3 linked regions of the Homo sapiens genome follow. The gene in region 1 interacts genetically with each later gene. Each region holds a gene or a part of one and is shown in the gene's direction. Other genes may lie near its edges. The genes, in order: CREBBP, MYB and CTNNB1.

Region 1 (3,653 bases):
ATCTCCTGACCTCAGGTGATCCACCCACCTCGGCCTCCCAAAGTGCTGGGATTACAGGAGTAAGCTACCGTACCCAGCCTTGTTTTGAGTTTTTAATGTGAAATAATGCTGCATAAGTCATTATTATATATTAGATTTCCTCACTAAATGATTATTCTTAACTTTCCATAACATTTCATTTCTCTAGAACAAGGATTAGCAAACTTCGTGTAAAGGGCCAGATACTAAATATTTTCAGCTTTGCAGGCCATTCAATCTTGGTTTTCATCACTTCTGTTCTTGTAGTGCAGAAGCTGCTGTGGTACATAAATGAGGTGGCTGTGTGCCAATAAAGCTTTATTTACAGAAACAAGCAGCTCAGTGTGTTTGCCCTGGGAGATTGCCAACCCCTGCTCTAGAACAGTGATTCAGAATCATTTTTAAAATGTTCACAAATAATTCTGAAGTGTATCCCCAGTATAGAACCACTGCACTGAAACAGTTCTCTTTCAGTAACTAACGTGTGTGTGTGTGTGTGTGTGTGTGTGTGTGTGTGTGTTTGTGTTTCAGAGAGAATTTTTTTTTTAAATTTTTAATTGTTAAGGGTACTTATGGATGTATATATTTATGGTCAATAACTTTTATTCTTATTTTTATTTATTTATTTTATAGTCCCCAGGGAAGAAGCAACTTAAAAAAAAAATACCTTTTTCTAAGCTAAGCTTAGAAAATGTTAAAGAACATTGGGTACATGTTATAGAACATGAAGCTTATAGGCTGGGTCAATGTACAGTAGCTCCCCCAATCTGTCATTTCACTTTCTGAGGTTTCAGTTACCTGGGGTCAACTGTGGTCCAAAAATATTAAATGGGAAATTCTGGGAATAAACAATTCATAAATTTTAAATTAATTAGCTAGGCATGGTATTGCACGCCTGTAATCCCAGCTACTGAGGAGGCTGAGGCAGGAGAATCACTGGAACCCGGGAGATGGAGGTTGCAGTGAGCCAAGATCATGCCATTGCACTCCAGACTGGGTGACAGAGCGAGACTCTGTCTTTTTTTTTTTAAAAAAAAAAAAAAAAAGTTTTAAATTGAGTGCCATTCCAAGTTGCATGATGAATTCTGTCACCATCCCACTCTGTGCCCCCAGGGATGTGAATCATTTATTTGTCCAGCATTTCCACACTGTAGACACTACCCACCTCTTAGTCACTGAGTGTCCACCTTGGTTGTCAGATCCAAAAATCTTGGTAAATATTGGGTTCAGTACTATCCGCAGTTTCAGGCGTTCCAAGACTGGGGGTCTTGGAATGTATCCGAGTGGATATGAGGGGACTGCTGTAGATGTGTGTGTTTAAGCCATAAGTTTCAATGGTTGTTTTAATTATATAAATCAGACTATAAGAAACGTGTGTAGTTTTACCGTTATTGAGGAGTGCCCATTACAAGTGTATAGCTCGATGAATTTTCACAAGCAGAACACTCCCAAGAAAATGTGATTAAATTCCCATACATTTGGCTGGGCGCGGTGGCTCACGCCTGTAATCCCAGCACTTTGGAAGGCCGAGGCGGGAGGATCACTTGAGGTCAGGAGTTTGAGACCAGCCTGGACAACATGGCAAAACCCGATCTCTACTAAAAACAGAAAAATTAGCTGGGCGTGGTGACGGGCACCTGTAATCCCTGCTACTCGAGAAGCTGAGACAGGAGAATTGCTTGAACCCAGGAGGCGGAGGCTGCAGTGAGCCGAGATCGCACCATTGCATTGCAGCCTGGGCGACAAGAGTGAAACTGTCTCAAAAAAAAAAATTTTTTTTTCATACATTTAATTTTTCAAATGTTTCATCACATTTTCAAACGGGGGAAATAATTTTACCATACTCTGTCCATTTCTGGTAGGGACAGGTGCCTGGTGCTGCTCTTCCTAACCCTCTCAACATGCTGGGGCCTCAGGCCAGCCAGCTACCTTGCCCTCCAGTGACACAGTCACCACTGCACCCAACACCGCCTCCTGCTTCCACGGCTGCTGGCATGCCATCTCTCCAGCACACGACACCACCTGGGATGACTCCTCCCCAGCCAGCAGCTCCCACTCAGCCATCAACTCCTGTGTCGTCTTCCGGGCAGACTCCCACCCCGACTCCTGGCTCAGTGCCCAGTGCTACCCAAACCCAGAGCACCCCTACAGTCCAGGCAGCAGCCCAGGCCCAGGTGACCCCGCAGCCTCAAACCCCAGTTCAGCCCCCGTCTGTGGCTACCCCTCAGTCATCGCAGCAACAGCCGACGCCTGTGCACGCCCAGCCTCCTGGCACACCGGTAAGCCTCTCTGTCTCTGCTGTTTTTGGGCCAAGACTCTTAGAAGATAATTTTCCCATAAAAATTGTGTGTCAGGCCAGGCGCGGTGGTTCACACCTATAATTTCAGCACCTTGGGAGGCCAAGGTGGGAGAATCACTTGAGCCCATGAGTTCAAGACCATCCTGGGCAACATAGTGAGACCTCGTCTCCAGCAAAAAAAAATTTTTTTTAACCAGACAAGCATGGTGGTGTGTGCCTGTAGTCCTGTAGTCCCAGCCACTCAGAAGGCTTAGGTGGGAAGATCACTTGAGCCTAGGAGGTACAGGTTACAGTGAGCCAAGATCACGCCACTGTACTCCAGCCTGGGCAACAGAGCGAGACATTGTCATCTTTTGTTTGTTTACTTAAAACTCCATTGAGGCTGGGCGCGGTGGTTCACGCCTGTAATCCCACTACTTTGGGAGGCTGAGGCAGGCGGATCACCGGAGCTCAGGAGTTCGAGACCAGCCTGGCCAAAGTTGTGAAACCTTGTCTCTACAAAAATATAAAAATTAGCCGGGCATGATGGCTGGTGCCTGTATTCCCAGCTACTCGGGAGGCTGAGGCGGGAGAATCGCTTGAGCCTGGGAGGCAGAAATTGTATCGAGCCGAGATTGCGCCATTGTACTCCAGCCTAGGTGACAGAGTGAGACTCCGTCTCAAAAAAAAAAAAATTCCATTGAGTAAGAATTTGCAAATTAGGAATTCTTTTAGTGGTTCCTTCGTGTAATGTTCATTTACTCCACCAGCACCCGTGTTCCTACCGTTCACACAGGCTGGGTAACACTGTCTTTGGGTAGGCACTTGATTTCCCTCCCTTCAGATGTGCTTAGGCATTCATAATTCAGCCTTTTACCATACACATTAACCACCATATTGAAGGGAATTAATTTCAAAATATGAGATTTCATGATTTAGCTAGAAAACTTCGAGAAAATAAATTTATGTCAAAGTTTGAAAAGCTCTGCTGTTTCCTCTGCCTTTGTGGCAAGACCTGAGTTGTACCTCTGGCTGCTGTTACCTCCCTCTAGAACTCATTCCTACTTTAACCCCTGTTCTTCGGTTTCACAGAAGGGCACCTGCTGGATCAGTATTGAGAAATGTTAATGGGAAATTGTAGGTTGCATGAGCAGCATAGTTGAAGATCATTTATGTTACCTTGCTTACTGAAGTCAGTGCTTTCGGTTTTTTCACAGCTTTCCCAGGCAGCAGCCAGCATTGATAACAGAGTCCCTACCCCCTCCTCGGTGGCCAGCGCAGAAACCAATTCCCAGCAGCCAGGACCTGACGTACCTGTGCTGGAAATGAAGACGGAGACCCAAGCAGAGGACACTGA
Region 2 (3,653 bases), on another chromosome or scaffold:
GAATACCCAACTGTTCACGCAGACCTCGCCTGTGGCAGATGCACCGGTAAGTACGTGTGCACCAGCCCCCAAGTTGTTATGTGACACTGGTGCCTCATGAAATCCTGTGTGTGGCATAGGGCTGCTGCGGTTTCAGCACTCCCTCTTTAACACATCTTATTTCTAAATGTTCTCCTGCACATGATTTTTAAAAAATGATTATTAATGTAGAGTATAAAGTTGAGATTTTTTCATGTATTAGAAACATTGCAGACTTTTTCATTATTTGTTTTCTCATTATTTGAGTGCCTTGGCCATTTAAAAAAATCTACATGGATATAAAAACTATGTTCATTTATATATTTTCCTTTATTTGTCTTCTAAATAATATTGTCTTCTTGTTAAGTTGTCTCTTGTTTGGTTTGTGTAGCATCTCATATGGTATCAACCACGTTGTCTATAGTAGATGCCCAGTATTGTACCCAATTGCTTTGGGTTACTACCACCATTTTTAAAGTTTATAATTTGTGAAGGGTTGTCCTTATGTCTTAAGGAAAATCAGAGCTAATAACAGCTGCTAAGATTTATTTAGTAGGTACTAAGTGGTAAGTACTGCTCTAGGGGCTTTCGATGAATTGATTCAGTTAATTCTCACAATTATCCTGTAAGGTTGGTATTATTTTTATTAATTTTTATTTTTTTTGAGACGGAGTTTCGCTCTTGTTGCCCAGACTGGAGTGCAATGGCACGATTTCGGCTCACTGCAACCTCTGCCTCCCGGGTTCAAGCGATTCTCCTGCCTCAGTCTCCCGAGAAGCTGGGATTACAGGCACCCGCCACCACGCCCAGCTAATTTTGAATTTTTAGTAGAGACGGGGTTTCTCCATGTTGGTCAGGCTGGTCTTGAACTCCTGACCTCAGGTGATCTACCCGCCTCGGCCTCCCAAAGTGCTAGGATTACAGGCGTGAGCCACCGCGCCCGGCCAGGTGGGTATTATTATCATTTCTATTATGTCAACTGGAAAACAGAGGCACAAAGAGGCTTAGTCATTTGCTCAAGATTGTATACCTAATAAGGGATGGTGCTGGGTTGGAACTCAGAAGGTCTTGTTCTAAATTCCCTACTTTTCACCATTTTTTGCCAATAATTTATAGCTCTAAAATATTGATAGTTCTGTACCAATATATGAAATAAAGTGTTCTCTCCCCAGAACTTAGTAAATCTTCTATTTTGAAAGGCATGTATTTATTAATTCATTTAGCAGATGTTTTTTGAGTGCCTAACACATGCCTAGAACTCTGGGATCCCAAAGGAGCTTTGTGTTGTGGTGATGTTTGCCACAATGGGATTAAGGTTCAGACATAGTTGATTTCTCCTTTTAGCTCATAGTGGGGAGAATTTCTGGCAGATGACTGCATTTTTTTATGCTAATGTGTATCATCTCATAGTAATCTACTCTCCACAGTGTTAGAAAAATGTGGCTCTCATATTATCCAACCTCATTTAAATTTCAAATTATTCTCTTCCCTTTAGAATATTCTTACAAGCTCCGTTTTAATGGCACCAGCATCAGAAGATGAAGACAATGTTCTCAAAGCATTTACAGTACCTAAAAACAGGTCCCTGGCGAGCCCCTTGCAGGTAATTACTATTCCAACATTGGTATTTTAAAATTCATTCACTGAAAAACTGTCATCTTTGGTGGTGGTGGTGGTGGTGGTGATGGTAGTGCTGGTGGTCTGTTTTTCGTTTTCAACATTTTAGACATAGGGGAGTAATGCTTTTATACAATTCTTGATGTCTAGAAAAATCCAATAATTCCTTTTTGCTACTCATATGAGACATGCTAGAAATTTTTATCAGTGCAGATTCCCCAAAGCATGATGAAATGAAACATTTCTTACTGTGACTGAGACTAAGATGTATTACACGTGTGTCACTATCTTCTTCTGCCCTCAAATGTTTTATAAAAATATATCAATATAGTTTACTTTATGTTCCAAATTTTTTATTTTTTATGCTGTATCCCTAGGCAACCAAAGCTCAGAGACTGTTCCAATTTTAAATGAAGTCTGAAATTAGTCAGACAGAAAATAATTGCAATGTATTTGACTGTCAGAATAAGAAAGTCAACTGTCAATGTTGTGAGGCCGATCTGAAGTTGACCATCTGCTGTCAGGTTTTAATATCAAAAGAGATTTCCCTTGTAACCCTAAAGTGGGTGTGTGTTGATGAAATATAACCAATTCCAAATTAATCCTGAGCCAAATGTAAATAAGAATGCAAATTTTGCTTCCCTAAATTATTTAAAGCAGTTTCTGACATTAAATAGCCCAATACCCAGCCACCTGCAGAGCCCTCTCCTCCATCCCCCTGTGCCATGCAGAGGGAAACTTCATAACCCTAGAGGAAGTGAAGAGCCTGGATTCAGAAGCTGAAGGTCATATTTCTTGCTGTAAGTTAAATGGCACGATCATAGGACAGCAGCCTTTGAGTCTGCCCATTACCTTAAAGGGATTTCCCATTCTTGTGATAGTTTCTCCTTCCAAATTGTGAGAATCTGAAAACTTGCCCGGTAAGTATTTGTGATGCTTAGTTTTTCAGGGTTTTTTGTTGATGTTGCTTTGTTTTTTGAAACAGGGTCTTACCCGGTGGCCCAGGCTGGAGTGTAGTGGGGTGATCTCGGCTCACTGCAACCTCCGCCTCCCAGATTCAAGTGATTCTTATGCCTCAGCCTCCCAATTAGCTGGAATTACAGGTGTGAGCCACCGGCAACCCAGCCGTTTTTTTGTATTTTTGGATAGAGACAAGGTTTTGCCATGTTGGCCAGGCAGGTCTCGAATTCCTGGTTTCAAGTGATCTGCCCACCTCGGCCTCCTACAGTGCTGGGATTACAGGTGTGAGCTACCGCACCTAGCCAGTGCGTAGTATTATTGTAAAATAAGGATTGCAAGCACATTTTGTTTAATTAAATCAGATTGCTTCCTTCCTGGCCTCTCTCTGACAGCAATTGTTTTGGTAAAATGGCTGTGGACTGGAATGTGAGACAGGGAGTCAGTATTTATGGGGAATCTGGACAAGTTCCTGCGTCAGTGAGGCTGGAGTTGGCCCCGTGTGGAGAAGACTCAGAATACCACAAAGAGGCCAGACGCAGTGGCTCATGCCTGTAATCCCAGCACTTTGGGAGGCCAAGGCGGGTGGATAACTTGAGGTCAGGAGTTTGAGACCAGCCTGGCCAACACGGTGAAACCCCATCTCTACTAATCCCAGCTACTCGGGAGGCTGAGACAGGAGGATCGCTTGAACCCAGGAGGCAGAGGCTGCAGTGAGCCGAGATCATGACACTGCACTCCAGCCTGGGTGACAGAATGAGACTCCATCTCAAAAAAAAGAATATCACAAATAATTGGGAGATGAGGAAGAGAATGAACTCCACCCAGACATAAGAGGAACCCAGAAAGGGAGTTACAAAGATTTCAAGGCAAAGGGCAGCCATTTCAAAATTTTCCTGAAAGCTGTTCTTAGGTCCAGAAGAAAAGCTTTTGCTTTTTTTTTTTTTTTTAATTATTCCCACCTAAGTTACTTGGCTCTTGGTTTCTAGAGAACAGAATTCAACTACTGCTATTCGTGTTTTAATTAAGTTAGATTAAGTTTTGCATATATTTTCTAACCT
Region 3 (3,653 bases), on another chromosome or scaffold:
CTGGCCTCTGATAAAGGTAAATTGTCAAAGTAGAATTTACCTTTGTTGCAGAATTGAAAATGAAGCATCTCTAGCTGTTGGATGGCTGTCTAAGCATAGTGATCAATAAGTAGGAATTGTATTCCTTAGTAAGTAGGAAGTATGGCTGCGATAGGGGTAAGATTCTGAAATGTTTGTGTAGTCAGAACTACTTTTAGTTGATACCAATAGATTTAGTGTGGTGGGAATTTTAGGGTAAGAAAATGATTTTGTTGAGTTGTATGCCAGTTCTTCCTTCTGTTTTTCAGGCTACTGTTGGATTGATTCGAAATCTTGCCCTTTGTCCCGCAAATCATGCACCTTTGCGTGAGCAGGGTGCCATTCCACGACTAGTTCAGTTGCTTGTTCGTGCACATCAGGATACCCAGCGCCGTACGTCCATGGGTGGGACACAGCAGCAATTTGTGGTAGGTAAATTCTTACAGTGATACCTGGCTATCTAAAAGGAATGCATAAATCCAAAGGATCCTGAACTTCTTTCTTTGGTCATTGGTTCCCCCCATCCGTCTTCCTGAAGAGCTAATGACAAAGTAAATAAATAAATAATTACACATTTCTATGGCTGCAGAGAAAATAAGGCATAGTGTGGCCCCAGTGATATTTCCTTGGACACGTCCTTCACATGGTCAGTCTTACAAAGGTTGGGTTAGGTGTTTCATAAAGTGTTCTCATTTAATTTACACAAAGGCCCACTTCCTTAGGAAGAGGTAGAGTCATAATTTGAGATCAAATCTGTGTAATTTCAGAGCCTCTTACCCTTGCCTCATCATGCATTTTGACTATAAATATTTAGCAGTCCGTTTTATTATCTTTTCTGTGAGTTAAACTTTTTTCATGGACCTAAGAATATTCAGAAATAAGTAGTAGCATTTCTGTACTCTTAACCACAAAAATCTCAACCTGAAGCTTTGATACAAAGTTTGTGTCTTAAAAGTAGCTTCATTAAAAGTATAGTCTAATGACATTTCTGATTTCTCAGACTTTAAGACCTTATTAGGTTAGTTTAGAAAACAAAGATGGAGCCTACCAGAACAGATGTTAGGAATCTCATTTTGCTGGTTGCTTTGTGTATGTACTCATATTGGGGCTTTGGCTTTCTTCATTTATTACTGTTGGTATTGGCCCATCTCCATGAGGTGACTTAATAGAACGTTGAGGGCACCTTTTATTTTAAATCTCTTTTCTAGGAAGAAGAGAGTTTTTGTGTCCTTGTAAGAATCAAGTTATTTATAAAAGCTGCTAAATGTAGCAGAATAATAACCCCTTTTAAAACTCAAATCCAGAAACAGGAGAAACAGATGGTACTTACATATTGCAAAAGCTATCTTCCTTCTATACATGAGGCTGTCAGCTGAATAGTCTTGGAAGAGTGAGGAGTGAATTTTTCTGCTGGCAACTCGGTTAGTTTTAGCAGTTGGTGCTAAAACTTGGCAAAGTTTTCACCAAATACATGGAAGATATACAAAAATAGAGGGGGCATGTAAAAGAAAAACGTTGACATAGTCTGAGCATTACTTTCTCATCTTCTCTTTTTATATACCTTTTACCCAGAATGATTGGTGCCCTTACTGTAGGAAAGTTGTCTTTGGGATTCAGCGCTGTATGGAAGCTCTGTTGCACTGTGTATGGGGGAGGGGTGCTGCTTTGAATTAGTGCTGCCAGGAGGCCTCTTTTCAGTGACATTCAAGTTAATGGAATCCTTCTTCCTTCCTGAACTAATTGCAAGTTACGGGGAACTTCGGGTATATAATGTAAATAATTACAGTCTAATAATTGTTCCTCAAACTTTACAGAGGAGAATGCCCTGTTTGTTAACCATGTTTCTTTTGGCAGGAGGGGGTCCGCATGGAAGAAATAGTTGAAGGTTGTACCGGAGCCCTTCACATCCTAGCTCGGGATGTTCACAACCGAATTGTTATCAGAGGACTAAATACCATTCCATTGTTTGTGCAGGTATGTTTTAAGTGAAGTGTTCTAGGTTTTATGTCCATAAAATTTCCAGATTGTAATGACTAATAACATTTCAGAAAATTAGGGACCATAATAGGGTTACCAACATTTAATTTTATGAAAATTCCCTACATTTTTTGGTCAGTAAGAGAAACATTGAGACTTGAGAAGAGGGAGGAGATTTCACATTTCACTTTTATGGGTGCCTAGAGGGGAGAGCTGACCTGGGCTGCCAGAGGCAGGGCATAGACCCCCAACCAATTCTGGGTTTTCCAAATCTTAGATCAGTTAGAGCTGCCTCTGAAGAAAGGGTTTATAGCTAAAAAATATTATGGAAATCCAGTGCTCCAGAGCATTAAACACCCCAAGACATAAAATTCAGAGAATATTATTTACTACAGTGTGAATGCCTCTTGCACTCTGAATTGGGAATGTTTGCACCACAGTGGGGGGCTTGCCATGTTTTAGCTTTAGATTTAATTAGGTTTTGTTTGTGTTTTCTCCTTAGCTGCTTTATTCTCCCATTGAAAACATCCAAAGAGTAGCTGCAGGGGTCCTCTGTGAACTTGCTCAGGACAAGGAAGCTGCAGAAGCTATTGAAGCTGAGGGAGCCACAGCTCCTCTGACAGAGTTACTTCACTCTAGGAATGAAGGTGTGGGTAAGTAAAAAGGAACCAAAGCCTTTAGCAGATGTGTACATTGAAGTCTCAGTTTTTCCTCAAGGGCCTTTTTCTCCTTGTCTCTTAGCGACATATGCAGCTGCTGTTTTGTTCCGAATGTCTGAGGACAAGCCACAAGATTACAAGAAACGGCTTTCAGTTGAGCTGACCAGCTCTCTCTTCAGAACAGAGCCAATGGCTTGGAATGAGGTAGGGAAATGTGAGCAGTTATTTATCTGGTAGTTTCCTAGAGCAGGTATGGCAGCTTGTTCTTTCCTCTCAAAACACTTAGTACACATTCATTTGCATTGATGTTTCCCTGGCTTGAGTATTTCTTCTTTATGCTGTCTAGCAACTGCTCTGAGGAAGAACTATAATACAAGCTTTAAAGAGTCTGTTCAGAATCATTACAAATAAGTTGTGTTATTTAAAATTATAATTCATAAGGGAGAAAGATGAAAAATGTTACCAGATTAAAGAAGATTTTTCAAAAGGATGTAAGGAAAGAGGCAGTGTTAAACACTGTTAAGAGGACAGTTTATCAGTATTTTTTACTAAACTTTAATAAAACTTTTCTATTTGAATTTCTGCTATGAATTTTTCTTCAGCATTTGTCCTCAGTACAGGTGGTTCCTTGAAACATTGTTTCTAATAAAACTAGAACATCCTGATATTTTATCCATTCTATAGAGATCATTGATGGTACACAGACATACAGTGGATTATGTTTGTTGAGTGAATGGAAAGAGAGATTGTTAGGTTTACAACGATGCAGCTCTTGAGACCGGAGTTTAAGATCAGCCTGGGCAACATAGTGAAACCCCATCTTTAGCTGGGCATGGAGATGGATGCCTATAGTCCTAGCTACTGGGGAGACGGGGGCAGGAGGATTGCTTGAACCCAGGAGTTAACAGACTGCACTCAGTGACAGAGCCAGACTCCAACACAAAAAAAAAAAAAAAAAAAAAGCAAATTACCAGTGAGTAGTGTGTTACTTGGGTTTTT

What was found.
Region 2: of CREBBP (region 1) and MYB, changing one enhances a phenotype caused by changing the other (phenotypic enhancement), as found in Homo sapiens cells (one study listed by BioGRID).
Region 3: of CREBBP (region 1) and CTNNB1, changing one enhances a phenotype caused by changing the other (phenotypic enhancement), as found in Homo sapiens cells (one study listed by BioGRID).

The regions. Positions count from the first base shown.
Region 1 is NC_000016.10:3,769,214-3,772,866, reverse strand, and holds part of CREBBP (CREB-binding protein), read left to right. Parts: intron 1-1,880; coding exon 1,881-2,297; intron 2,298-3,513; coding exon 3,514-3,653. UniProt on the Homo sapiens protein: Acetylates histones, giving a specific tag for transcriptional activation. Mediates acetylation of histone H3 at 'Lys-18' and 'Lys-27' (H3K18ac and H3K27ac, respectively).
Region 2 is NC_000006.12:135,201,704-135,205,356, forward strand, and holds part of MYB (transcriptional activator Myb), read left to right. Parts: coding exon 1-46; intron 47-1,513; coding exon 1,514-1,621; intron 1,622-3,653. UniProt on the Homo sapiens protein: Transcriptional activator; DNA-binding protein that specifically recognize the sequence 5'-YAAC[GT]G-3'. Plays an important role in the control of proliferation and differentiation of hematopoietic progenitor cells.
Region 3 is NC_000003.12:41,233,852-41,237,504, forward strand, and holds part of CTNNB1 (catenin beta-1), read left to right. Parts: coding exon 1-16; intron 17-287; coding exon 288-446; intron 447-1,872; coding exon 1,873-1,992; intron 1,993-2,497; coding exon 2,498-2,648; intron 2,649-2,736; coding exon 2,737-2,858; intron 2,859-3,653. UniProt on the Homo sapiens protein: Key downstream component of the canonical Wnt signaling pathway.